Homo sapiens: one gene and its partners. The protein of the gene in region 1 interacts with the protein of each later gene in a biochemical or structural test. Each region holds a gene or a part of one and is shown on either strand. Other genes may lie near its edges.

The links.
Region 2: the proteins of ITGB1 (region 1) and FERMT1 form a complex in vitro, tested with the Homo sapiens proteins (one study listed by BioGRID).
Region 3: the proteins of ITGB1 (region 1) and ITGA3 form a complex in vitro, tested with the Homo sapiens proteins (one study listed by BioGRID).
Region 4: the proteins of ITGB1 (region 1) and FLNB form a complex in vitro, tested with the Homo sapiens proteins (one study listed by BioGRID).
Region 5: the proteins of ITGB1 (region 1) and ANKS1B form a complex in vitro, tested with the Homo sapiens proteins (one study listed by IntAct).
Region 6: the proteins of ITGB1 (region 1) and FERMT3 form a complex in vitro, tested with the Homo sapiens proteins (one study listed by BioGRID).
Region 7: the proteins of ITGB1 (region 1) and ACAP1 form a complex in vitro, tested with the Homo sapiens proteins (one study listed by BioGRID).

What each region holds. Positions count from the first base shown.
Region 1 is NC_000010.11:32,906,231-32,909,730, forward strand, and holds part of ITGB1 (integrin beta-1 isoform 1A precursor), read right to left. Parts: intron 2,305-3,500; coding exon 2,138-2,304; intron 914-2,137; coding exon of another isoform or gene 839-913; exon of another isoform or gene 833-838; intron 1-832.
Region 2 is NC_000020.11:6,109,531-6,113,030, forward strand, and holds part of FERMT1 (fermitin family homolog 1), read right to left. Parts: intron 3,094-3,500; coding exon 2,947-3,093; intron 982-2,946; coding exon 768-981; intron 1-767. UniProt on the Homo sapiens protein: Involved in cell adhesion. Contributes to integrin activation. When coexpressed with talin, potentiates activation of ITGA2B. Required for normal keratinocyte proliferation.
Region 3 is NC_000017.11:50,066,110-50,069,609, forward strand, and holds part of ITGA3 (integrin alpha-3 preproprotein), read left to right. Parts: intron 1-1,946; coding exon 1,947-2,196; intron 2,197-3,500.
Region 4 is NC_000003.12:58,168,922-58,172,421, reverse strand, and holds the end of FLNB (filamin-B), read right to left. Parts: intron 2,833-3,500; coding exon 2,629-2,832; intron 1,926-2,628; exon of another isoform or gene 1,848-1,925; coding exon 1,660-1,847; 3' UTR 646-1,659; coding exon of another isoform or gene 549-645; 3' UTR 352-548; coding exon of another isoform or gene 261-351; 3' UTR 171-260; downstream 1-170. Other genes in the region: uncharacterized protein LOC124909485, read right to left, coding at 261-351, 549-645. UniProt on the Homo sapiens protein: Connects cell membrane constituents to the actin cytoskeleton. May promote orthogonal branching of actin filaments and links actin filaments to membrane glycoproteins. Anchors various transmembrane proteins to the actin cytoskeleton.
Region 5 is NC_000012.12:99,982,137-99,986,145, reverse strand, and holds the start of ANKS1B (ankyrin repeat and sterile alpha motif domain-containing protein 1B), read left to right. Parts: upstream 1-1,209; 5' UTR 1,210-1,908; coding exon 1,909-2,042; intron 2,043-4,009. UniProt on the Homo sapiens protein: Isoform 2 may participate in the regulation of nucleoplasmic coilin protein interactions in neuronal and transformed cells. Isoform 3 can regulate global protein synthesis by altering nucleolar numbers.
Region 6 is NC_000011.10:64,216,721-64,220,220, forward strand, and holds part of FERMT3 (fermitin family homolog 3 short isoform), read left to right. Parts: intron 1-2,530; coding exon 2,531-2,638; intron 2,639-2,803; coding exon 2,804-2,938; intron 2,939-3,019; coding exon 3,020-3,069; intron 3,070-3,158; coding exon of another isoform or gene 3,159-3,170; coding exon 3,171-3,295; intron 3,296-3,499; coding exon 3,500-3,500. UniProt on the Homo sapiens protein: Plays a central role in cell adhesion in hematopoietic cells. Acts by activating the integrin beta-1-3 (ITGB1, ITGB2 and ITGB3). Required for integrin-mediated platelet adhesion and leukocyte adhesion to endothelial cells.
Region 7 is NC_000017.11:7,335,245-7,339,328, forward strand, and holds the start of ACAP1 (arf-GAP with coiled-coil, ANK repeat and PH domain-containing protein 1), read left to right. Parts: upstream 1-1,284; 5' UTR 1,285-1,490; coding exon 1,491-1,543; intron 1,544-2,018; exon of another isoform or gene 2,019-2,067; coding exon 2,068-2,125; intron 2,126-4,084. UniProt on the Homo sapiens protein: GTPase-activating protein (GAP) for ADP ribosylation factor 6 (ARF6) required for clathrin-dependent export of proteins from recycling endosomes to trans-Golgi network and cell surface.

The DNA of each region.
Region 1 (3,500 bases):
TTTGGATTTCGTGATCAATTTTCACTATCCAACCCTAAAATTTACTCATAACAAATTTGTTATTTAAGGATAATACTGGTGGGGCACAGTGGCTCACGCCTGTAATCCCAGCACTTTGGGAGACCGAGGTGGGCAGAGCACTGGAGGTCAGGAGTTCAAGGCCAGCCCAGCCAATGTGGTGAAACCCCATCTCTACTAAAAACAAAAAAATTAGCCTAGCATGGTGGCAGGCACCTGTAATCCCAGGTACTCGGGAGGCTGAGGCAGGAGAATTGCTGGAATCTGGAAGTCAGAGGTTGCAGTGAGCTGATATCACACCACTGCACTCCAGGCTGGGCGACAGAGAGAGACTGTCTCAAAATAAATAAATAAATAAACAGAAAAAGAACAAAAGATAATAGGATAATATCATTCTAGGCACAGGACTGTTATGAGGATTAGAGCTGACAGGCTGATTTCATATACTGGAGTGCATTTGCCAAATACAACCACCCCATACAAAACAGAGTACTGACTCCCTGTGACAGTTGAGAGAAGTGAAGTGACTCAATGCTGTTCTACTTACTAAGTGGAAGAGGTGGGATTTGACCTGAGGTCTAACTGATTGCAAAGCACATTCTCTTTTCACTACAACATGGCTGCTGTTTCTATATCACATTACTTATTTTACGGTCTTTCTAAACGCGAAGTTAACATACAAAAAGAAAAGCCACAATAGCGATATTTAAAGCCAGACTTAAAAAAAGAACAGCAATAGTGATAAAGGACACACAGTGCAGTAAAAAAGATAGAAGTTCACATGCAAAGGCAGAAAGTGAAACAAAATACGAACGGCAATTTAGAGACCAGCTTTACGTCCGTAGTTTGGATTCTTGAAATTATTAATAGGACTCTTGTAAATCGGATTTTCTTGCTAAAGTAAAAGAAATAGTTTCTAATGATTTCATCAGAAAAAAAAAATCCCTTTATAGTGTTTGAACACTATAAATGTCTTTTTTTTTATTTCTACCCTTCTGAAATTTGTAATTTAAAAAATTGATAATTTTTAAAAACCCAAGCAAATTGTAGTAAAGTGCAACTAACTACAAAATTCATTTACAATTTAAAAATACTGAAGATTGGCATTGCTTTCTTGTATCAAAAGATGAATACACAAAGGCCAACATTTGGTTACCCCACCCTCTGACTCCATATTTCAAAGCACTCAATGCTAACATAACCTTTCGGTCACTTAGGGCTTTTAAGATTTTTATAAGCCAAAGTTTACTGAGATATAATTTTCATAGAGGAACATACATCTTTTTAAAGTACATAGTTCTGTGAGTTTTCAAATACATAAATCCACCCACAATCAAGATCATCCCAAGGAAGATCCCTTACGCCCCTCTGTGGTCAACACTTTCCCCCATTCCAGCCCCTAGCAACCACTGATTTTTGCCCCTACAGTTTTGCTTTTCCAGAATGTCCTCTAAATGGAATCATATAGTATATAGCAGGGGTGTCCAATCTTTTGGCTTCCCTGGGCCACACTGGAAGAAGAAGAATTGTCTTGGGCCACACATAAAATACACTAACGATAGCTGATGAGCTTTAAAAAAAAGTTACCAAAAAAAAATAATAATAATAATTACAATTTCTAAGAAAGTTTACAAATTTGTGTTGGGGCCACATTCAAAGCTATTCTGGGCTGCATGTCCTGGCCGACGAGCTGCGAGTTGGACAAGCTTGGTATATAACCTTTTGAATCTGGCTTTCACTGAAGGTTTTTTTTGTTTGTTTGTTTTAAAGAAAGAAGCAGCTTTCCATTGAATAGCTTGCTACACAGATAACATTATTTAGGATTCTACTTCACATTAGATGAAAAGGCAGATTTAGGATCAAAACTATTAAAGAAATAAAAATACTGGCCACAGTAACCAGAATATACATGCTTATAATCAATGTTTTGTTTCAATGGGATATATTTAGGATGCTTTCTGTTTTTCACTAAATGCAAATTCCTTGAGTAAGAAACTTTTGGGGGAATAAAATACTTAGAAAGGACTTTAATAATCAGCCTGACAGCTAATACATAAGTCTTAGGAGTATTACATTTACTTTATAAGCCACTTTGCTTTTTGGATGTTTTGTAACTTACCGTGTCCCATTTGGCATTCATTTTCTCCTTTTCAAATTTAGCAAACTCCCTTCTGTCATGAATTATCATTAAAAGCTTCCATATCAGCAGTAATGCAAGGCCAATAAGAACAATTCCAGCAACCACACCAGCTACAATTGGAATGATGTCTGGACCAGTGGGACACTCTGGAAAATAAGAAGGTAATAATGAGCACCACAAAGAGCTGTGCAGTGTCTTATAAAAAACATACAGGAATAAACACCCAAGAGAGTGAACGCACACTATCCCAAAGAATCTATAAAATAGCTCTTAGAACTAACAAGTGAGTTTACAAGGTTGCAGGATACATGATCAATGAACAAAAATCATGTATTTTTCTATATATATAATTTATTTCTACATATTGAAAATATAAGTTTTTAAACAGTAATATTTACTACAGAATGAAAAAGCATGAAAAACTTACATATAAGTCTAACAAAATATATGCAAGATTTGCATGTTAAGAATTACTAAATACTGATAAAAAGAAATCTTTCAGACTGAATAAATGGAGAGATATTCCATGTGCAGGAGTTACAAAACCTAATACCGTTAAGACGTCAATTCTTCCCAATTTGATCTATAAACTCAATGGTATCCCACTCAAACTCCTGGCAGAACTTCTGTAGCAATCAGTAAGCCACTTCTAAAATTTACATGGAAGGCAGGGAACTAAGGAAGTGTCTCAAAAACACTTTTGTAAAAGAATAAAGTTGGAAGACCCTGCTTTCAGGCCTAGCTATAAAGAAAGCTACAAGACCATGTGGTATAGCTAACACTCAGATACATGGAACAGAATACAGAGTCAGAAACAGGCCTACACATGTAAGGTCACCTGATGTTCAACAAAGGTGGAGAAAAGACAGTCTTTTTTCAACAAATGCCCCTAGAACAAGTGGACACTGACATGAAAAAAACTGAGCCTTTTGTCACACACTAACTCAAAATGAGTTACAGATCTAAATGTGAAACCCCAGAAACTATAAAACTTCTACCAAAAAACAGAGGAGAAAAATCCTTATAATCTTGGGTTAGGCAGAGTTCTTAAAGACAATGTAAAAGCAAGAGCCACAGAAGAAAAACTTGGTAAACTGTACTTAATCAAAATTAAAACCTGTGGTGTTCAGAAGACACTTAAAAAAATGAAATGATAAGGAGACACAGGCTGGGAGACAATATTTGCAAAACACCTAGCTGATAATTCAAAACAGTATGGGAGTCTAAGAGTCTGGCAGCTTCTTAACAAAGTTAAACATATGCTTACCATATGCTCCAAAATGCCATTTTTAGTATTTACCCAAGAGAAATGAAAGCTTATGTTCACACAAAAACATGTACA
Region 2 (3,500 bases), on another chromosome or scaffold:
CAGAAATAGTTTGGGTGTATTTTCTGAGACCATTTCAAACAGAGCTCAAGGAAGTTGCTCATTAGAATGCCTAAAGAGAAGAGCGACAGCTGGGCGCGGTGGCTCATGCCTGTAATCCCAGCACTTTGGGAGGCCAAGGTGGGCAGATTACCTGAGGTCAGGAGTTCGAGACCAGCCTGACCAACATGGAGAAACCCAATCTCTACTAAAAAAATACAAATTTAGCTGGGCATGGTGGCGCATGCCTGTAATCCCAGCTACTCAGAAAGCTGAGGCAGGAGAATTGCTTGAACCCAGGGGGGCAGAGATTGTGGTGAGCTGAGATTGCGCCATTGCACTCCAGCCTGGGCAACAAGAGCAAAACTCCATCTCAAAAAAAAAAAAAAAAGAGAAGAGTGACATTCTACAAAAGACAATGTAAGCCTGGTGGGTCACCTTGGATTTATCCCACTGGCCCATGGGGACCAACACACTTATTAACTACCCTACATCCCACAAAATATACTTTGCATATCTGTAGTGGTAAAGAATTAGTATTCACAGATAGTAAATCTACTGAGTTACCCAAACATGTAAATTTAGGCACACTTTAAATATACTGAAATGACCAAAGGCTGAATTTTTCCCCTTTGTTGCTAAAATCAGCACTAACTTTTGCAAATAAAGCACAATCCCTAGGCCTACCAACTTGAAAATGAAACGTGACATCCCATCTCTTACTGTGTCGGCACTAGCTCAGAGAGAAGTAAAAGGAGCCGTGTCCTTACCCTGCATTGAGCTTGGCTTTATCAACCAGAGACCGAGGCTGGTACATATCCGCAAGTGCTTCTGGGGACTGGGGGGGTTGGCTGAATGCGAGGATGCTGCAGTTTTGTTCCGTCAAAGGGCTGTCACTGAACCAAGTCATGGTGGATGATGCTGGTGTTCCATTGATGGGGTCATATATAGGGGTCATGGTTTTACTGTATAAACCAGGACTTACTGCAAGGCAGGGGGATCAAGAACTATGATATGAGAATCCAGGGATATAAATCTTCAAGAAAATATTAACATTACTTACACTAAAATGAGTTTTGACTTTAAATTTGGCACCATTTAAAATAATATAAGTCAAGCTGGGCACTGTGGCCCGCGTCTATAATCCTAGCTACTTGGGAGGCTGAGGTTGGAGAATTGTTTGAGCCTAGGAGTTTGAGACCAGCCAGGGCAACATAGCAAGACTTCATCTCAAAAAACAAACAAACAAACAAACAAAACCCAAAAAATAATATGGATCATGATGGTACAGAGATTAGTAATACACAGGTAATGGTCTTATCTGTAAATTCAGCTCCTCAAAAGCCTTGGAACTCAAATATGTAAAAGCCTTCAAAAATCAACAGGGACAAACATTGGGGACCACCTCTTTTCTTTCTTTTGTTTTTTAGACGGAGTCTCACTCTGTCGCCCAGGCTGGAGTGCTGTGGTGTGATCCTGGCTCACTGCAACCTCAACCTCCCAGGTTCAAGTGACTCTCCTGTCTGAGCCTCCTGAATAGCTGGAATTACAGGCATGAGCCACCACACCCGGCTAATGGAGACCACCTCTTTTCTAATAATTCACAGTTTTCCTATTTCAGTAGGAGTCTTGGCACTATTAGAGAACTGGAGACCTCATAGAATGCATGTACCCAATATGTTTCAGGTAGCCCCTTAAACAAATAGCAGGACTTGCCAATTTTAAGAATTCAGTAGGCTGATGATTTATAAATCAGCTGGCTCTAATTTGTACAATTTGTTCTTTTCATTGGAATACACTATGCAAGAAAGCCCTCAATCTTGGCCGGGTGTGGTGGCTCATTCCTGTAATCCCAGCATTTTGGGTGGCTGAGGCAGGCGGATCACTTGAGGCCAGGAGTTTGAGACCAGCCTGGCCAACATGGCAAAACCCTGTCTCTACTAAAAATACAAAAATTAGCCAAGTGTGATGGTGCACACCTGTAATTCCAGCTACTCAGGAGGCTGAGGCATGAGAATCACTTGAGCCCGGGAGGCAGAGGCTGCAATGAGCCGAGATTGTGCCACTGCACTCCAGCTTGGGTGACAGAGCAAGACTCTGTCTAAAAAAACAAAACAAAACAAACAAACAAAAAATGAAGAAAGAAAGCCTCAATCTTGCAAGCAAGCTAGAGATTTGATTGTTTTGATATAAAAAGAAAAGGATGCTTCTCCTCCAGAATTTTCACCTGCCCTCCTCTTGCATGCCCCATAAAAAACTGAATTCAGGAAAGAATCACACAATGATAGAATCATGAAGAGAGAAGTGTATTTGAGTGATTTAACTTATCTTTTTTCTTTTCTTTTTTTTTTTTTGAGACAGGGTCTTGCTCTGTCACCCAGCCTGAGTGCAGTGGCACAATCTTGGCACACCGCAACTTCCACCCTCAGGGCTCAAGCAATCCTCCCATCTCAGCCTTCTGAGTAGCTGGGACCACAAGCATGCAGCAGCATGCCCAGGTTATTTATTTATTTATTTTTTGTATTTTTAATGGAGATGGAGTCTCACCATATTGCCCAGGCTGGTCTCAAACTTCTGAGCTCAAGTGATCCACCCACCTCAGCCTCCCAAAGTGCTGGGATTACAAGCATGAGGCACCGTGACCAGCCAGTTACCTGTTTTCTAAATATCACTCTTTTATCCCAAATTTGTGGTCAGTGGTACTAAAATTTTGCATTCATTGGCAACATCAGATATACAATTCAAGTAATGAGTTATTAAACATGCTTGATGAAAAAAAGTCTGAAACACATTTCTGTTAATTCTAAACTTGACTAGATAGCCTTTCCTCATCACATCAGTTCTGCAATTTTATTTCTCCTTTGTTTGGTGGGGGTGGGAGGAGAGATATATTTCTCTCTTGAGTTTTACTGTACGTTCAAACAACAAAACACCTGTAACAAGTCTTACCTGATGAACCTGAAGCTGTTGGAGAACTCTCCAGGTTTAGAATATCTTCAATTATGGGTTCCTTATTATTTTTGTCTTTTTTCTTCTTCTTCTTAAAATAGTCACCAGACGGCTTTAACAAGGAAAGCTCTTCTGATCTTCTAATATCTAGAAATAAATATTTTTTAAAAATGAAGAAAAAGTAAAAAGAAAACTCCTTCTAAGACTCAGGGTCATTTTGTGCATTTAAAATCATTTCTCAGGAAATTTCTGAAAAGTAAATGGGACTAAACTGCATCCCTTTTGAAGAAACAGAAGGGGAAAGGGGAACAGAGACCTCCAAAGTAGGTGGGGGGAGAAAACGGTGGAGGGAGATTCAGTCTAGTGAAATTTCTGGTTAGAAAAATTATTATAAAAATATTTCAAATGTATCTAAAGCAAAGGGAATGGTATAATGTCCCCTTCATGGGCTCCCCAGCTTCAGTCATTACTAGCATTATGCTATTCTTGTTACCTATTTACCACCAACTTTACCTCCCTCTCCCCTTTCTTCCTGATATGGTTTGGATGTGTCT
Region 3 (3,500 bases), on another chromosome or scaffold:
CCTTGACTTCCCAGACTCAAGCGACCCTCCAGCCTTAGCCTCCCAAGCTAATTTTTAAAGTTTTTATAGAGACAGGGTCTGACTGTGTTGCCCAGGCTGGTCTCAAACTCCTGGGCTCAAGTGATCCTCCTGCCTTGGCCTCCCAAACTGCTAGTGCTAGGATTTCAGGCGTGAGCCACCGTATGTGGCCCCATTTTTCTTTTTCTTTCTTTTTTTTTTTTTTCTCTTAGAGATGAGGTCTGGCTCTGTCACCCAGGCTGGAGTGGGTGACATGATCATAGCTCACTGTAGCCTTGAACTCCTGGGCTCAAGTGATCCTCCTGCCTCGGCCTCCCAAGTAGTTGGGATTATAGGCAAGAGCAACAATGCCTGGCTTTTTTCTCATTTTAAAATTTGATGTGGCCAGGCTCGGTGGCTCATTCCTTTGGGATGAGGCAGGAGGATCGTTTGAGCCTAGGAGTTTGTGATCAACCTGGGCAACACGGCAAAATTCCATCTCTACCAAAAATATATAAATTAGCCCGGCATGGTGGTATGCGCCTGTAATCCCAGCTGCCTGGGAGGCTGAGGTGGGAGGATCACTTGAACCCCGGAGAGAAAGGTTGGAGTGAGCTGAGATCATGCCACTGCACTCCAGCCTGGGTGACAGAGTCAGATCCTGTCTCAAAAAGGAAAAAATTGATGTAATGTTTACATACAGTGAAATGTACAGATTTCAAACTTCAATGAATTTTTACAAATGTATGTACCTGTATAACCAAAGATATATCTTAAAATCACTCCAGAAGGTGCCCTTGTAACCCCTTCTAATCATTTGCCACCCCATAAGCCACCACTGCTGGGATTTCTGTCACCTTTGAACACTGTTTTAAGCTCCAGGTTGGCATCAGTTCACTGAAATGCCTTTTTGATAACCCTGTTATGGATGGCTGTGGTCTAGGAGCCCATTTAAAGTGATTCTGCACCCTGGATCCTTTAGCAGTTATTTACTCACTGTTCATTCAACAGATATTTGGTGAGCCCCTACTGTGTACCAAACACTGTGCTATTCCTAGAAGCTTAGCAGTGACTAAGACAGGCTCAGGTAACATGCTGGTGGAGCTCACAGCTAGAAGGGACCACAGAAAGCAAGTAAACAAGAACCAGGGCCTACTTCTGGACTTTGCCTGTCTCCAGGCTGTTTTAAGTCACCCTATTCTGGCCCATCAGTTTGCCCAATAAATATATACTGAGCAGCTAAAGTGCACCCAGAGAGGCTGCGCATAGATTCTCCCCTCCGTGAAGCAGCACAGCATGTGCTTAAGAGCTCAGATTTTGGAAGGAGACAGCCTTGGTTTGAATATTCTCTGCCTCTCTCTAGATATGAGATCTTATGCAGGTTACTGAGCTCTCCATGCCTCAGTTTATCTAAAATGGGGGAAATAATCATTCCTACACCATAGGGTCACTAGCAGGCTTAACACTTAATATGTGAGGAGTTCAGAATTGTGCCTGGCATATAGGAAGCACTCATGAAGTGTTAGCTGCTGCTATTATTATTACCGTCATTGTAATTATTATTTTAATAATGGTCCTTTCATTAAGAGGACAGGGTCATCTGGAGATGGCAGAGCAGCAAGTCCCTTAATCTCTCTGTTACTAACCCCTTCTAGACCAAGAGCCTGAACCCCACAGTCTCTCATCCTTCCCTGCTTTCCCTTTGCTGAGATCTCTAAGCCACTCTCAGATCCACACTTTACAGCTTTCCAAAAAGTGTTCCTGACCCTCAGAGCAGATTTCTGAATTCTGGAAAGGAGATGCAGGTTTAAGTATCACTGGGAGAAGGAGAAGCCAGGAGATCTCCTTTGACTCCTGTTTGGCAAAGCCAGAGGCTTACAGGGTAAAAGAGACAGCTGACCCGGGTCCCTGTGCCTGACTAAGGCTGCCTGTGTTTGGGGGGTCCCCAGGTCTGTGCCCACCGCTACACCCAGGTGCTGTGGTCAGGGTCAGAAGACCAGCGGCGCATGGTGGGCAAGTGCTACGTGCGAGGCAATGACCTAGAGCTGGACTCCAGTGATGACTGGCAGACCTACCACAACGAGATGTGCAATAGCAACACAGACTACCTGGAGACGGGCATGTGCCAGCTGGGCACCAGCGGTGGCTTCACCCAGAACACTGTGTACTTCGGCGCCCCCGGTGCCTACAACTGGAAAGGTGGGGACCATGGGGCCATGGGGGAAGAAAGGAAGAGCAGAGACCACCCACCCCTAGTTAGCCACGGGGACAGCTGGCCTAGACCATCCACACTAGAAACAGGACCTCATGCCAGTATCAGCAACCACCATGACTTCTACTGTTTTAAAGCACTTACTATGTGCCAGGGGCCTTACGCATATTATGTCAATCAATCTTTTTTGTTGTTTTTTTGACATAGGGTCTCACTATGTCACCCAGGCTGGAGTGCAGTGGCACATTCATGGCTCACTGCAGCCTCGACCTCCCCAGGCTCAGGTGATCCTCCAACCTCAGCTTCTTGAGTAGCTATGACCGCAGGCATGTGCCACTACACCTGGCTAATTTCTGTATTTTTTGTAGAGATGGAGTTTCACCATGTTGCTCAGGCTAGTCTTGAACTCCTGGGCTTAAGCAATCCACCCTCCTCGGCCTCCCAAAGTGCTGGGATTATGGGCATGAGCCACCATGCCCAGCCTCAATCAGTCTTTTTTATTTATTTATTTATTTATTTATTTATTTATTTATTTATTTATTTTTTTGAGACAGAGTCTCACTCTGTCACCCAGGCTGGAGTGCAGTGGTGCAATCTCGGCTCACTGCAAGCTCCACCTCCAGGGTTCACGCCATTCTCCTGCCTCAGCCTCTTGAGTAGCTGGGACTACAGGTGCCCGCCACCATGCCCGGCTAATTTTTTTGTATTTTTAGTAGAGACGGGCTTTCACCGTGTTAGCCAGGATGGTCTCAATCTCCTGACCTCGTGATCCGCTCACCTCGGTCTCCCAAAGTACTGGGATTACAGGCGTGAGCCACCGCGCCCAGCCTAATCATTCTTAAAATACTCTTATGAGGCAAGTATTATTATATCCATTTTACAAAAACAAAAACTAAGACTTAGAGAAGTAAATTGCCCAAGGCCAACAAAGTTATGAAACCTGGATTGGAATACAGGTCCATCTGACTTCAGTTTAACCATTTACAAACTAATTCTAAAAATAAAACATGCTCCTGGTACAACCACTACATAGTACAGTAGGCAATGTCCTATAATAATAGTTATCGCCAGGTGCAGTGGCTCATGCCTGTAATCCCAACACTTTGGAAAACTGAGGTGGGAGGATCACTTGAGCCCAGGAGTTCAAGACTAACGTGGGCAACGTAGGGAGACCTTGTCTCTACAAAAAATTTAAAAATTAGCCAGGTGTGGTGGCACACACCTATGGTCCCAGCTACTCAGGAGGCTGAGGTGGGAGGATCGCTTGGGCCCAGGAGGTTGAGGCTGCAGT
Region 4 (3,500 bases), on another chromosome or scaffold:
CTGCCTCCGCCTCCTGAGTAGCTGGGACTGCAGGCATGCATCACCATGCTGGCTAATTTTTTAATTTTTTGTAGAGGCTGGGTCTTGCTGTTACCCAGGCTGAGGGTGTTGAACTCCTAGGATTAAACAATTTATTCAGAAGCGACATCATCCAAGAACACCAAGGCAACTTTACGGAGCAAATGTTTTATTTAATAAGTTATAAGATACAATTTACAGTCGGCGTTTGATTCCAGTTTGGCTTCCGTGTCCCAGCTTACAACACCCGTGGTCCTTTCACATCAGGCTCCGGGCTGTTCCACTTTCTGTAGGGTGGGCTTTTACCCCCAACACTCGCCCCAGATACTACACCTGCCACAAGAGTGGCCACTTCCTCAGGACTAAGCAGCAAAACCTAAAGGTCTGCCTGCCCAGACCACACTACACATTTGGGCTCAGGCAACGTCCCTGACACTTTAACCTCATTCCAAAGCCAGCTCAGGTCTGCAGGAAGGCAGGCAAAATTCCCTACACCTCATTTCTGGATTTCTGCACCACACAGCTCTCACTGTTTCTGCCAATGGTGAAAAGACCACCAATAAGCTGCTGCCCTTCTCTCCCCCAACCATTCCCAACTTTCAGGCCAAAGACCCGCAGGAGTTTCATTCTGTCCTGTCTGTACAGATCATTATTTTCCAGAAAAAGTGACCCATGAAGTTGGCTGGGGCGGGTGTGGAGTGTTATGTCATGGGACGGACCTTGGGATGAGGGCGTTAATCCATGGGCCCCTCTGAGATCACTTTAAACATTTTGGTAAGACTGCCCAGGCTGATGAAGGGCTGGAGCGTGTGTTAAAAACAAGGGCTAGTGTTGGTTAAAAGGGATCTTTGGCAAGTGGGAAACTGCTCGCCACTGCAGAATTTCTTCAGACCAAGGAAGGGACTGAAACGGACTTGGAAAACTAAAGCAAAACCATGACTGCCGGGATGGTCTCGTGTGGTGATTCTGCAAGAAATAATCACCAGAGCGAGGGGACAGGTACTTGAGAGACATGTGGGCCTGGCTGCCACTCTGCCCTCTGAGTTTCTGTAGGGTGCCCGGCTGCCACTCTGCCCTCTGAGAAGTGTAAGAAGGCCACAGAGCATGGGGGTGTTGGCGATGAGGAGCGGTAAAGCAGTGCTAGTGATCTAATAGCCAAATACATTAACACGGACACTGGAAGAGATTAAGCGGATTTTAAGTCATCTCCTTTGCCAAATGACAACCAAACTAGGTGTCCCCTTTTTCTCTGCCCATCTTCCCCTAGCCTTGTTTCATAAATGCTGAAGAGTGAACCAGCAGCTCAGGCTAGCCAGTTTTGTTTTTTTGAAATGTCAGTCTCATTGTGTTCCTGGTCTGTCTGCTGCAGTGGCTGGTCTGTTCCACCAAGAGTTCTGGTTTGCACCTAGTGTACTCAGGATCTTCTCAGCCCCCTGAACAAGCTTGCATTTCTTAAGATTCTCCAATATGTCCCTCAAGAGTCCAGTCTAGGACTTATTTCTGAAGGCATTTTACAACAGCAATATTTTAGGGATGGGGTTTCAGCCCCACAAACAGGCTGGAGGGCTTTGTATAAAATGAATTACAAACAAGCAACAAAAGCAACCACAAGAACTCTCTCCAGGATTTGAGAAAACTGTTTTAAGGCACTGTGACATGAAAAGGGCTGCCAGGGATGTGTTCCTCCCCCCACTTCACAGCCAGCACATAATCGCCCCTCTCCTTGACGACGTATGTGACGTTGTATTGCTGGTTGCCTACATGCTTCATGGAGACCTCCTCGCAGGGGGTGGTGGGCCCATGGACCCCGATCAGCAGCATGTTGGAGCCTAGGAGGCAAAAGGTGGTTACTCCACCCGGATGCATCAGGACAGGCACAGGAAGAAGAGGAAATATGAGAGCCAAAGGTAAGGTGCTTCCACGATAATGCTGGGGCCCCTAAGAGGTGGGAGAGCGTGGCAATTACAAGCAGAGGCTCATAGAGCCTGACGGTGTGGGTTCGAATCCCTGCCCTGCCACTTGCTACCTGGGTGACCTTGGACTGGAATCTCACCTCTCCCTAGCTCAGCTTCCCCATCTGTAAACAGGGAATGAGAACAGCACATACCTCACGAACTAGTTGTGAGGTTTAAGAGTTATGGGTGTCAAAACCTAGCACACAGTAAGGGCTATTCTAAGTGTTGGCTATGAGAATCTTCTTGTTTACTCTCACAAGCACCTTAAGGAAGGTACTTCCGAGAAGAGGAAACTGACTTTTGGAAAGAGATTTAATAACTTTCCAAGGTCACATGGCTAAATAAGTTTTAGAACAAACGAATGAATGAATGAAGTGGCGGTACTAGGTTTCCAGCCCAGGTGTACTGGATGCCAGAACCCAGGCAACCGACCCTTGAAACCCAAATAAATACCCAAGTTCAAAAGGCAAAAGAGAAGGAAATCATTTAAAAATATTAAGTGCAGGAGAACAGGGTCATGACGATGGTTACTTGCAAACGGCTGGCCTACATGGGGGTGGGCACTGCAGGAGACCTCAGCAGGGAAGGCCAGTGTACCCAGGGTGCCCAGCCTGCCCCTGCCCCACCCCACCCTTGAAAAGGCCCAGACACCTACCAGCTTTGCTGCAGTCCACCAGGAAGGAACTCTTCTGGCCCACAAAGGCCTTTGAGAGCCCTGCCCCCTTAGAGGTCACCTTGCTGGCGTCCGAGGATGCCTTGGGAATGGCGCTATAGCAGGTCTCTGTAGACGACCTGGTCACTGACTCCACCAGGATGGATGAGGTCTCGTTGGCTGAGCCAGGGCTAACTAGACGCTGGCCTAAGATACAGGAGGGAGGGGGACAGGCATGAATGGCCAGATCAAGAGGGGTCTCTCAGCCAGAGGACAGGCGAGTACCCTACACAGTAACCCCAGGAGAGCCCGCGCACCCCAACACAAAAGCCACCACACCTGTATCTCACACCCATAATGTCTTCTAAACCCCTAGGATCCCACCCCCATACAACTAGGATCTGGCTTTCTGGGCAAATGGATGAGTCTGGCCTTGGCTGACAAGGCCAAGGACCCTCCCAATCCCCCCACCCCCTACCCACCAAAGATGTGCCTGTGGAATTCACATCTTTCTATTGACATAAAATAGTCTATGTATAAGCAGTGTAAAAGTTTGGGATGACATATAATGAAATATCAAAAAATGATTCTGTGGATGAGAAAGGATGATTTTTCTATCTGAATTTTCTAATTTTCCTGCGATGAACCTACATTCTTTATGTAACAGTGAATCATGACGTGTGGAAGGGATTTACTACAGTGTTTATGGTGGTTACCTTGGGTGGTGGCTGTGAAGTGGTTTTCATAGTTTGGTATTTTTTCCAGTGTTTTGGAGGAGACACATTTTTATAAGTATAGGAAAACTTTTTGATTATTTTTCAAGTGAAAATTAGAAATCAGGGGATTTTTCAGACCCTGATCTAAACAAATACGTA
Region 5 (4,009 bases), on another chromosome or scaffold:
CCCCCAGTTATTTATTGAAAATCTTTGCCTACAGCAGACAGTGCCGGATTTGAGCCTTGGCTCAGTTACTTTCTATCCCTATTATCTTGCGGGTAATCAGTTTCTTCATCTCCAAAATAGAGATGAAAATGGTCCTATCTCATGCGATTGTTGCAAGGCTTAATGAGAACATGGAAAGCACTTAGCATAGTGTCTGGTATGTAGCAACTACTCATCAAATGCATGCAATAATTATTGTCTGTCCATTTCGCTTTTCCATGGGGGGCAGGAACGTATATTGGGAAGCACATGGTGTCTGGAGTGAGTCTGTTCTGGGGTCTAGTTCTGAGTCAGCCACTTACTCCATGTGGCATCTTGAGAAATTTAATTAACCATTTGAGCCCTATTTCCTCATTTCTAAAATGGATATAATAATATCCAGTTCACTGGGTTGTTGTAAGCACAGTGCCTATTAAGTCCTCTTCTTACCAATCAATTATCAACAAGTGAACATTTATGAAGTCTATTCCAAGGACAATGCAAAGCACAAGGTGTAACAGGAAGTTTTAATAGAAAATAAACGCGCGTTCTCCACCACGGCCAAGGAGAGCATCTAACAAGTCATGCCAACCATGCACAATGAATTGCTGATGATATATGCAAATTAAAGTGGATCTCTAATCCATGCCCATTTATATTTTTCGAGTGTAGATGTGGATAAATTTTCAATGAGAGCCTTTTTCCTGGTATTCTTACAAGTCAGCAGATCTCCAAAGCCCAACTAAAATATGGGCTGATTAAAGACTCCAGAAAAACTGAAACAGTCGCAAACTGCTCGGTGGCCAGTGCCACAGAAACTAGGACGAAACGAGCCTCTTCTTTCTAACCAAGGGCAGATCTCAGGCTCTCTTGGGGAGGTAAAGCGGAAGGGTGAAATGCCGGTCAAGTTGCCTAGACTCTGATGGAAGCGGTGGCCAAAGGGCCCCTCCCCAGTGTCACCAGCCTCCCCATTCCTGTCACGGAGGATTTTCCTCAGGCGTCGTGACAGACCCGAGGCGTGTTGCCGGGGCCCGCCGGGCCGAGGAGGAGCCGACGCGGCCCGGGGAACTCCAGTCCTCACACGGTTAACGCTCTTCCAAGGAGAGTGGAGGAGGGAGGGTCCCCGCCCACGAGAACGAAGAGAATCTCAGGGCCGAAGCCCCGCCTCAGCCGGCCCGGCCCCTCCCCGCCAGCCCGCCACCCAACTCGGGCCGCACCAGGGGCCGCACCTGCCCGCGCGCACACGCCCCCCGCGCGCCAGGCCTCGCCGCCGCCGCCGCCCTCGGCACGCGCCCGCTGCGGCTGCCCCCCACCGCCCTGCCTCGGCGCGGGCCACAGCGCACGAGCCGCCGCCGCCGCCGCCGCGCTCCTCCCCGCCGCGGACGCCGCCCCCGCGTAACCGCCGAGGAAGCCGAGGCGAGCCCGGGTCGGGCGCGAGGGCGCGCGGGCCGCTGCTGCCACCGCGGGTGTTCCCTGCGCTCCCGCTCCAGCTAGGACTCTCTCTGCCGCCTCCTCCTCCTCCTCCGACCTCAGTCCTCACCACCCTCCTCCCGCTCCTCAAAAGCACCCCCGAGTCCCCACCCCCTCACGCCGCACCCGCGGGAACGAGGCCTTGGGAATTCAGGGGAGTGGCTGTGGGGGCGCGTCGCGGCTCCCAGCTCGGCCAGCCCCTCTTTCAAGACATGGTCTGATCCCCATTGTAAAAGCTGCGCCCCGAAGAGGAGGAGAGAGTCGTGCTCCCTGCCTGGGGCTGCAGGGAGCTCTCCGTGCTGAAGCTCTTGCATTATTTTAGGGTGGGGCGAAGAGGGCCCTGGATTTTGGGGAGTGGGGGTGGGTGGGGAGGAGGACCCGAGGGGGGCAAGGACTCTGTGGGGGAGTCGGTGAGAGACTATGGGGAAGGACCAGGAGCTGCTGGAAGCTGCTCGCACTGGAAATGTGGCTCTGGTGGAGAAACTCCTGTCTGGCAGGAAAGGAGGGATCCTGGGCGGTGGATCCGGACCCCTGCCCCTGTCTAATCTGCTAAGGTAAGGACGGGCACCAGCTCCGGGGTTGGCACACCTCATTATGCATTGTGATGGATATACGTCCTCCTCCTCACGGTTATTGCACCTGGTGGCTGCCAGCGATTCATTCTTAAATTAGGTAGGAAAACAGACTGCGTGTATGGAGAGGAGGTATGAGCCTCCCAGTCAGATTGATGCCTTAGATTCTTTGAGTAATTTTAAAATAGCCTTCCATCAATGCGTCAGTAAGCTACTTTTCCTCTGAGCCCTGGTGCAGAACTTGTACATGTACTAGTGTTGCTTGAAGAAAATCGACGTTCCGCCCGCTTTCCATCAACATTTATTACATATTTGCAGCTTTGAACGCAGCCTTTTTTGTCTAGTTAAATGAAATTGGCAGAGAATCTCTTGCGTGCATGCAATTACCCTGCAAAAGCCACAGCCTTCGGTGGCTCCTACCTTCTCTTGCAGAAGGCGTTTGCTGTGCCGTGGGTTATGATCCCACAAAATGAAGTGAGTGAACCTTCTTTCTGGTGAGATGTCTTCAGCACAGGGTGTGTATAAAACTTGATGGGGCAGGTTAGGCAGCCCCAGCAATACTTTCAGTTACCTGGACATAGCTGAGTGAAACTTGGTTGTTATAGCTCAGGATGAAGGATGCCAGGTTGGTATTGGGATACTGTATATGGAGTACGGTAGAGGCCTTTTAACGTGAAGATGTCGTAGGTGAGACTGGTATTGCTTGGAGAATCTTTCTAAGATGACATTTAAAAAAAATGTCAAGGTCTTCATTCAGCAGTACCTTGGAAATAGCGGGGTTGATTTCCATACTTGAGAAACTATTAAAAGTTGTATTGATGGACAAATGAAATCAACTGGGAGGGAGGAAGCCTGGAGAGTATTCACTAGATACAATTCAAGGGAAGCTCTTTAGTTTCTAAAATCGTGGCTATCCAATTTATCCTGGGTATTTTTGGAGTCATCAATTGTCATTCATATCTTCGCCTTAAAACATCTCTTGGATAACCCAACTATAGTTGTAAAAATTTTAGAAAGCCCAAGTGATTTCCCTGGTTTTTTAAAAACTGTTCCATGCTACCCTTGACAAGTGCTTAATAGAAACTTTTGGGTGATGACATTGCGTTCTTTACACAAGTTCTCATAGGTTGTGGTGGTCAGACAGTGCAATTAATTATAGGGCTAGCTAAAAGGGAAAATGGAAAGTTTCTATTACAGTGAAATAAATTGAGTTGAAAAATAGTCGATGGGATTTTAAAAAGCCCCATATGTTATTCTATATACTCGTTGACAGTGACATTTTATTGGAATGATAGTTCATGTCAGAAGAATGAATATTTATGGGACATTTTTTCAATAGGTCATAGAGATGACTTGTGTGTACTCCCTTGTTAAATAATCTTCTCTTTCAAACACAGGTAGACAATGTGTGCATATTTCAGATTGCAGCTCTAATAATTGCCTGTAGTCACATGTAGTTTATGTGAAAGCAATTTATCTCTTTACAGTTTTAAGTTACACGTAAAATAACAACGTTTGCTGTGGATCCATCAGTTATAAAAATGATTATGTCTAAAAACTGGTATGCTGAAAGAATTTTCTCAAAATAAACAATTTCTTCGGGAAAACATGAGGAATTATTTGAGAACAGTGAGAATTTCACTTAATTTTATTGTGATAAATCGTATTTTAAAAACACTCCTTGTGACAAAACTCAAAAGCAAACATCCTTTAAATACTCCTTTCCCAGCTGTGATTTTTTTTTTTTTTTTTAAAGAATAGATGTCAAGTTTTAGGGATAAAACACCAAGTATTTAATGTTAGTGGACACTAAAGTATCAAAATAGTGACCCACAGTGTATATCTTGAGTGAGAGGTTTTCTCTTTTGCTGGTGTAGTAGTAGTAGTAGTAGCTCTACAACAAAGATTGCACATAGAAAACAAAAGTAAACAACATGTGTTTATTAGAG
Region 6 (3,500 bases), on another chromosome or scaffold:
GGGAGGCGGAGCTTGCAGTGAGCCGAGATCACGCCACTGCACTCCAGCCTGGGTGACAGAGCGAGACTCCATCTCAAAAAAAAAAAAAAAAAAAAAAGGCGGGTGCCACCATGCCCAGCTAATTTTTGTACTCTACAAGGATTTTGATTCACGTTTGAAGTTCTCTTCTGCGCCCTACCTGGCCTTTATTTCCTCCAAGCTGTTTTATTCTTGTTGTCTTGGTCTCTATGGTTCACTCTTGAAGCTTTCCTTAAATGTGGGTAGTCCATGCCTGTCCATTCATATTTAAAAGTGAAGCTCTAAGAAACCAATTGGAGACCCTGAGTGTGTGAGTAGGGCTTGGCATCTTGGTGGCCCCCTGGAGGCGATGGGGCCGGGCTGCCACTCTTTGTCGGGCATTTCTCTGGTGGCTCAGCCTCTCAGTGGCAACCCCACTGATCTTTCAACTGGAGATAGAAGGCTTCCTGCCAATGTCTTGGGTGACAAGTGGGAAAGGGTGTGGGTGTGTCACTCATCTGAATGCCAGCTTTCTTTAAATTTGTGTTTTTGCCGGGCACGGTGGCTCACGCCTGTAATCCCAGCACTTTGGGAGGCCAAGGCAGGTGGATCACCTGAGGTCAGGAATTTGAGACCAGCCTGATCAACATGGAGAAAGCCTGTATCTACTAAAAATACAAAAGTAGCTGGGCGTGGTGGTGCATGCCTGTAATCCCAGCTACTCAGGAGGCTGAGGCAGGAGAATCGCTTGAACCCGGGAGGCGGAGGTTGCGGTGAGCCAAGATCGTGCCATTGTACTCCAGCCTGGGCAACAAGAGCAAAACTCCATCTTAAAAAAAAAAAATTGTCTGTTTTCACCCTAGTGCAACCCCCACCCCGTCCAGCTGTGTCTGGGGTACCAAATGCAGGGGTGCATCTGGCTCAGCATCTCCAGAGAGTGAGTCCCAGCTTCTGCCAGGTGTCTCCTTGCCATCACTTGGCTGCATGGAGCTGGGGAGGGACCTGCTTTTTTTCTTGGACTTTATCCAGAGTCCTCTCTTCAGCTCACCCTCGCATCTCATCCAGAGGATCCCCATCAGAGCCTGCCAGGGGTCCGCCATGCAAACTGGATGCCTCTGTTGAGATCTCTGTTCTTTTTGCTGATTGCTTTCCGCCTATTTTCAAGTCTCATTGGTGGATTTACCAGACAGGAGAGGGACAAGGCGTGAGGCCCTAGCGCTCTCTGCATAACCCAGTTCCCATCTACAGTTTGCTCTCCATCTTCCAAATTATTTCCTTTTTCCTTTTTTTTTTTTTTTTTTTTTGTGACGGAGTCTCGCTCTGTCGCCCAGGCTGGAGTGCAGTGGCACGATCTCGGCTCACTGCAAGCTCCGCCTCCCGGGTTCACGCCGTTCTCCTGCCTCAGCGTCCTGAGTAGCTGGGATTACAGGCGCCCGCCACCACGCCTGGCTAATTTTTTTGTATTATTAGTAGAGACAGGGTTTCACTGTGTTAGCCAGGATGGTCTTGATCTCCTGACCTCGTGATCCACCGACCTCGGCCTCCCAAAGTGCTGGGATTACAGGCGTGAGCCACTGCGCCTGGCCTTCTTTTTCTTTCTTTTGGAGACAAGGTCTCACTCTATCCCCCAAGCTGGAGTGCAATGGTGCAATTACAGCTCACTGCACCCTCAACCTCATGGGTTCAGGTGATTCTCCCACCTCAGCATCCTGAGTACCTGGGACTACAGGCACGCACCACCTCATGTGGCTAATTTTTTGTATTTTTAGTAGAGATAGGGTTTCACCATGTTGCCCAAGCTGGTCTGAAACTCCTGGGCTCAAGCTATCTGCCTGCCTTGGCCTCCCAAAGTGCTGGGATTACAGGCGCAAGCCACCGCCCCGGCCTGTCCTTTGTCCTTTTGGGTTTATCTTCCTAAACCTTTGCTATCAATTTTGGGTGAGTTTCAGCGGGATTGTTGGTCTTCTGTGGGTAACTGGGATCCCCTCTTGGAGTCTCTGCCTTCCCAGTTCCTTTTCTCTGGAATCCTCTTCCTTCACGCTTCCCTTGAGTGGCCCACTGTCATCCTTCCTATCTCTACTCAGCTTGTCACCTCCTCAGGGAAGCCTTCCCTGACTGCTTCCCCATGTTCCATTCTGTCATCTCCATTGAACTTGGGGGGGCCTTAGACTGAGGGCTCATGTGAGCTTCCCTGTGGAAACTGTTTCCTTGATAGTGTTTATTGCAGCCTTGGATTATTTGACTTATTGATTGGTTTACTCGGTCTCTCCTGCACCCAGGGCAGCATGCCAGCACACAGTAAACATCAGCACAACCAAGCCAAGGTTTAGACGTGCAGGCCTGGGCAGCAGGGGGCTAGCAGGCTATTAAGGATGGGGTTGAGGTCTGTGGCCCATGTCTGGCCACTGAATGAATCTGCCTCAGCAAGGAGGGCAGGGCAGAGGGCCAAGGCTGGCAGGGGCTCAGTGCAGGGCGTCCAGGGCAGCTGGCATCTGACCAGCCCAGCCTCCAGCCTCCTCTCCCCCCGCTCCAGACAGACCCCGTGCGGCTGACACAGCTGTATGAGCAGGCCCGGTGGGACCTGCTGCTGGAGGAGATTGACTGCACCGAGGAGGAGATGATGGTGTTTGCCGCCCTGCAGGTACCAGGCGGGCCTGGGGGCACCAGGGCAGGTGGGAGGTGAGCCAGTCCCAGGGCAGGAAGGGCCTTCCTGAGTGGGGGCTACCTCCAGGGAAGCCCGGCCTGGGGGTACTGCTAGGGGACCAGGCTGCTGGACTCAGCCCTCCCTGGCTTCATGACCACCTAGTACCACATCAACAAGCTGTCCCAGAGCGGGGAGGTGGGGGAGCCGGCTGGCACAGACCCAGGGCTGGACGACCTGGATGTGGCCCTGAGCAACCTGGAGGTGAAGCTGGAGGGGTCGGCGCCCACAGATGTGCTGGTGAGGAGGGGCTCAGGGCAGGGGCTGGGCAGGGAGAACTGTGAGGTACCGGGTGCCCCTCTGACTCTGGTCCTCCCATAGGACAGCCTCACCACCATCCCAGAGCTCAAGGACCATCTCCGAATCTTTCGGTGAGTTGGGGGCCAGAGTAGGCAGCCCTGCTGGAGGGGTTGGTCTGCATATGGAGGGAGGGGGTGAGGCGGCCTTTCACAAACCCCAGCATCCCACGAAGGCCCCGGAAGCTGACCCTGAAGGGCTACCGCCAACACTGGGTGGTGTTCAAGGAGACCACACTGTCCTACTACAAGAGCCAGGACGAGGCCCCTGGGGACCCCATTCAGCAGCTCAACCTCAAGGGTAAGTGCACAGGGCCAGGGGCTGGGTGGGGGGATCCCCACTTGTGGGCTAGGCAGGTGAATGCTCTCACCGGCCCTGTTTCCTCCTGGAGACCGGGGAAGATGCCCTCTGTCCTGAGGTGACGGTGTGGGCTAGGATGCACTCCAGGACCTCAGGCGGCTCTTCCCCTCCCGACCTCCTAGACCACCCCTTCTCTCCCTCCAGG
Region 7 (4,084 bases), on another chromosome or scaffold:
CCTCCTCCTTCACTCCTCTGCCACACCACCCCACTCCAGGTATTTCTCTGTCCTCCAAAGACAGTGAGTCTCAAGTGGTGTCCAGCTGGTGGCTGGGGGGCTGAGCTGGCAAAGCCCAAGGAGTTCAGAGAGGGAGAGTGGAAGCAACCCCAACTCCTCAAGCCAGAACAAGCACAGCCTGGCACACTGAGCCTGGGCAGAGGCAAGGGGATGCATACACTGGCCAGGGAGGTAGAGGAGCTGAGTGGGGAGGTTCTAGGGGATCCAGAGTCACATGGACAAGATCTCATGCCTGCTACGAGAAAGCCATGAACTCAAACTCTTCTCTCCAGATGAAACCCTGGGACTTCAATGGACTCAAGAAAAGGAAAGCAAACAATGGAAAATGGGGCTGGTTGGGGGCGGAGTGGGGGCAACCTTCCCTTCATGACCACCCTATGAATAGAAATAAAGAGCAGAAGAGCAAGAGTCTGGGAGCTGTGAATCGGGTGCTCAGGCTGGGCCTGCTCAGTCGTTGAGGAGAGGGGAGGAGGAAGGGGAGTTCACACACAGGAACCATGAATATGACGGCAAAACGAAGAAAGCTGGGAGCAGTCCGGGGTACTGGACTCCACAGGAGCAGGCCCAAGCTGTAGCAGGATGACAATGACTGATGCAATTAATATAGTGAACCAGCTGGGCACAGTGGCTCACGCCTGTAATCCTAGCACTTTGGGAGGCCGAGGTGGGTGGATCACCTGAGGTCAGGAGGTCGAGACAAGTCTGACCAACAAGGTGAAACCCCGTCCCTACTGAAAATACAAAAAGTTAGCCGGGCATGATGGCAGGAGCCTGTAGTCCCAGCTACTCGGGAGGCTGAGACAGGAGAATTGCTTGAACCCAGGAGGCGGAGGTTGTAGTGAGCCGACATCGCGCCACTGCACTGCAGCCTGGGCGATGGAGGGAGACTCCGTCTCATAAATAAATAAATTTAGTGAACCATGAATTTACTGCTATCACCTTCTTCACTTCGTACAGCCCTGGAGGAAGGGGTTATCATTCCCATCTTCCAGATGAGAAAACTGAGGAATCAGAGAGCTCGTCCAGGGGCACATAACCTCTAAGTGACAGAGCCAGGATTTGAACCTAGATCTGCCAGGCCCCCAAGATAACCACGAAGAGAGAAAGAAACAGAGGCTAGAGCCCCAGGAGGAAGGAGCTGGCAGATCGTCTCTGAGGGTGGGGCTGTGGCTTCTCTGATCTCAGGCCCCCATCCTCCGCCCAGGCCCCGCCCCTGCCCCTCCCAGCACTGCCTGGAAGTGTGGGGTGAGAGCTCCTCCTAGGACACCCCTTTCCCCTTGGGGAAAGAATTGTGCCCCCAGGCCCTTCCCCGCGGAGGTCCCTCTCCTCCTTCCCCCTCATCTCCCCTTCCTGGGACAGAAAGTGCCTCCACCTGCATCCCCAGGGGCCCGGCCTCCAGGGCCCGCTGGCCCCACAGCAGGCAAGCTGAGATGACGGTCAAGCTGGATTTCGAGGAGTGTCTCAAGGACTCACCCCGTTTCCGGTAAGTGTGAACTGGTCTGGGGGGCTAAGGAGGGGAAAGTCTAACACCCCCAGCACACACACACCTTTCCCCAGGCCAGGTCTCCTTCCAGGGAGCAGGCCTCTAAGAGGCAGGAGCGAGCCTGTGGGCCAAAGTGGTACCCCAGCTGTGAAAGCAGGGTACTCCAATGCTCTCTGCCCCTGCATGCTCCTCCTGGCCTCTGCAGTTTCCCTCACCCCTAGAGCTGGCATTCCCTCTGGCCTCTCAGTGGGACCCCTGCCCCTCCCCCAGCACCTGCTCTGGGGCGGTTAGCAACTTCCTGCCCTGGCCACATCCACCCTCCTTCTACCCTTCCTGCTCTGGCCTGGGCTGTGGTAGCTCCCAGACTGCAGAGCGGGCAGAGCACAAGTAGGTGGGTGGGGGGCGAGCCTCTCAACTCTGCAGCTTTCTCCTCCGTACCCACCGCCCTGCGACTCCATCCCGCCTGATGAGGCAGACAGACCAGATGGACCCAAGCTCTCTTCCCATGACCCCCTCTTTCCCAGAGCCTCTATTGAGCTGGTGGAAGCCGAAGTGTCAGAATTGGAGACCCGTCTGGAAAAGGTGACCCTGACATGGAGAGGTGACCCAGGAGTGGATTAGGTTGAGAGGGGTAGGGCCAGGGAGAAAGCTGGAGACACAGAATGCATCCCAGGGATTATTGAATACTGTGTAGGGGAGATATTTTGGAGACTGCAGAGAAGCAAAAAAGGTGGTTCTGTACCGACAAGAAGCTCAGGATCTTGGAAAACAAGACTTACTTTTGGGCCAGGCATGGTAGCTCATGCCTGTAATCCCAGCACTTTGGGAGGCCAAGGTGAATGGATCACCTGAGGTCAGGAGTTCTAGACCAGCCTGGCTAACATGGCGAAACCCCATCTCTACTAAAAATGCAAAAATCATCCAGGCTTAGTGGCACCCATCTGTAGCTCCAGCTACTCAAGAGGCTGAGGCAGAGGAATCACTTGAACCTGGGAGGCGGAGGTTGCAGTGAGCCAAGATCGCACCACTGCACTCCAGGCTAGGCGACAGAGCGAGACTCTGTGTCAAAAAAAAAAAGACTTAATTTTGGACTTCCTTGTTCTGCTCTTGAGCTCCTGCATTGTGCCAGGCCCTGGGCATTCAGGGAGGACAAGATCATTTCTGCTCCCACGGAGCCCAAAGGCTGACTAGAAGACAAACCAGTGAAACGTTTCAATTCAAGACAGTAAGGTGTCCCCTGAGCACTCTATCAAACAGCATGTTCACACAAATACACACTCAAATGCTCTCTCATTCCCCTTACTTCGCTTTACTTTTCTCTGCAACATTTACCTCTGACACATTATGTATTTGCTTGCTATATATTAGTTCTCTATTGCTGTGTAACAAATTGTCACAAATTTAGTGGGCAACATTGTTTTATGGGCAACATGGTGAGACCTCATCTCTACAAATAATAATTTTATTTTTATTTTTATTTATTTGAGATGGAGTCTCGCTCTGTCACCCAGGCTGGAGTGCAGTGGTGCGATCTCGGCTTACTGGAACCTCCACCTCCCAGGTTCAAGTGATTCTCCTACCTCAGCCTCCCAAGTAGCTGGGATTACAGGTGTGCACCACCACACCTGGATAATTTTTTTTCTTTTTGTATTTTTAGTAAAGACAGGGTCTCACCATGTTGGCTAAGCTGGTCTTGAACTCCTGACCTCAAATGATCTACCTGCCGCAGCCTCCCAAAGTGCTGGCATTACAGGCTTAAGCCACCGCACCCGGCCTACAAATAATAATTTTAAACAATGGACTGGATGGAGTGGCCACAGCTGTGATCCCAGATGCTTCAATACTGGGCTCAAGTGATCCTCCCTCCTCAACCTCCCCAGTAGCTGTGCTACAGGCACATGCCACCACGCCTGGCTTTTTTAAATTTAAATTTATTTTTTGTAGAGATGGGGTCTCCCTATGTTACCTAGGCTGGTCTGGAACTCCTGGCCTCAAGTAATCCTCCCACCTCAGCCTCCCAAAGTGCTGGAATTACAGGTGTGAGCCACCACACCTGGCCTGAATTTTTTATTTTGAGTAAATTATTGACTCAGGAGACTAGTGAGGAGAGGTCTCATGTACCCATCACCCAGCTTCCCCCAGTGGTGACATCTTATACAATACTAGTACATTATTAAAACCAGGACATTAATAGTGTCACATTACAATTAACAATAAACTCGGCCAGGTGTGGTGGCTCACGCCTGTAATCCCAGCACTTTGGGAGGCCAAGGTGGGCGGATCACGAGGTCAGGAGATCGAAACCATCCTGGCTAACACTGTGAAACCCCGTCTCTACTAAAAATACAAAAAATTATTCGGGTGTGGCGGCAGGCGCCTGTAGTCCCAGCTACTCAGGAGGCTGAGGCAGGAGAATGGCGCGAACCCGGGAGGTGGAGCTTGCAGTGAGTGGAGGTCGTGCCACTGCACTCCAGCCTGGGCGACAGAGTGAGACTGTCTCAATAAACAAAAACAAACAAACAAAAAACCCCAATAAACTCT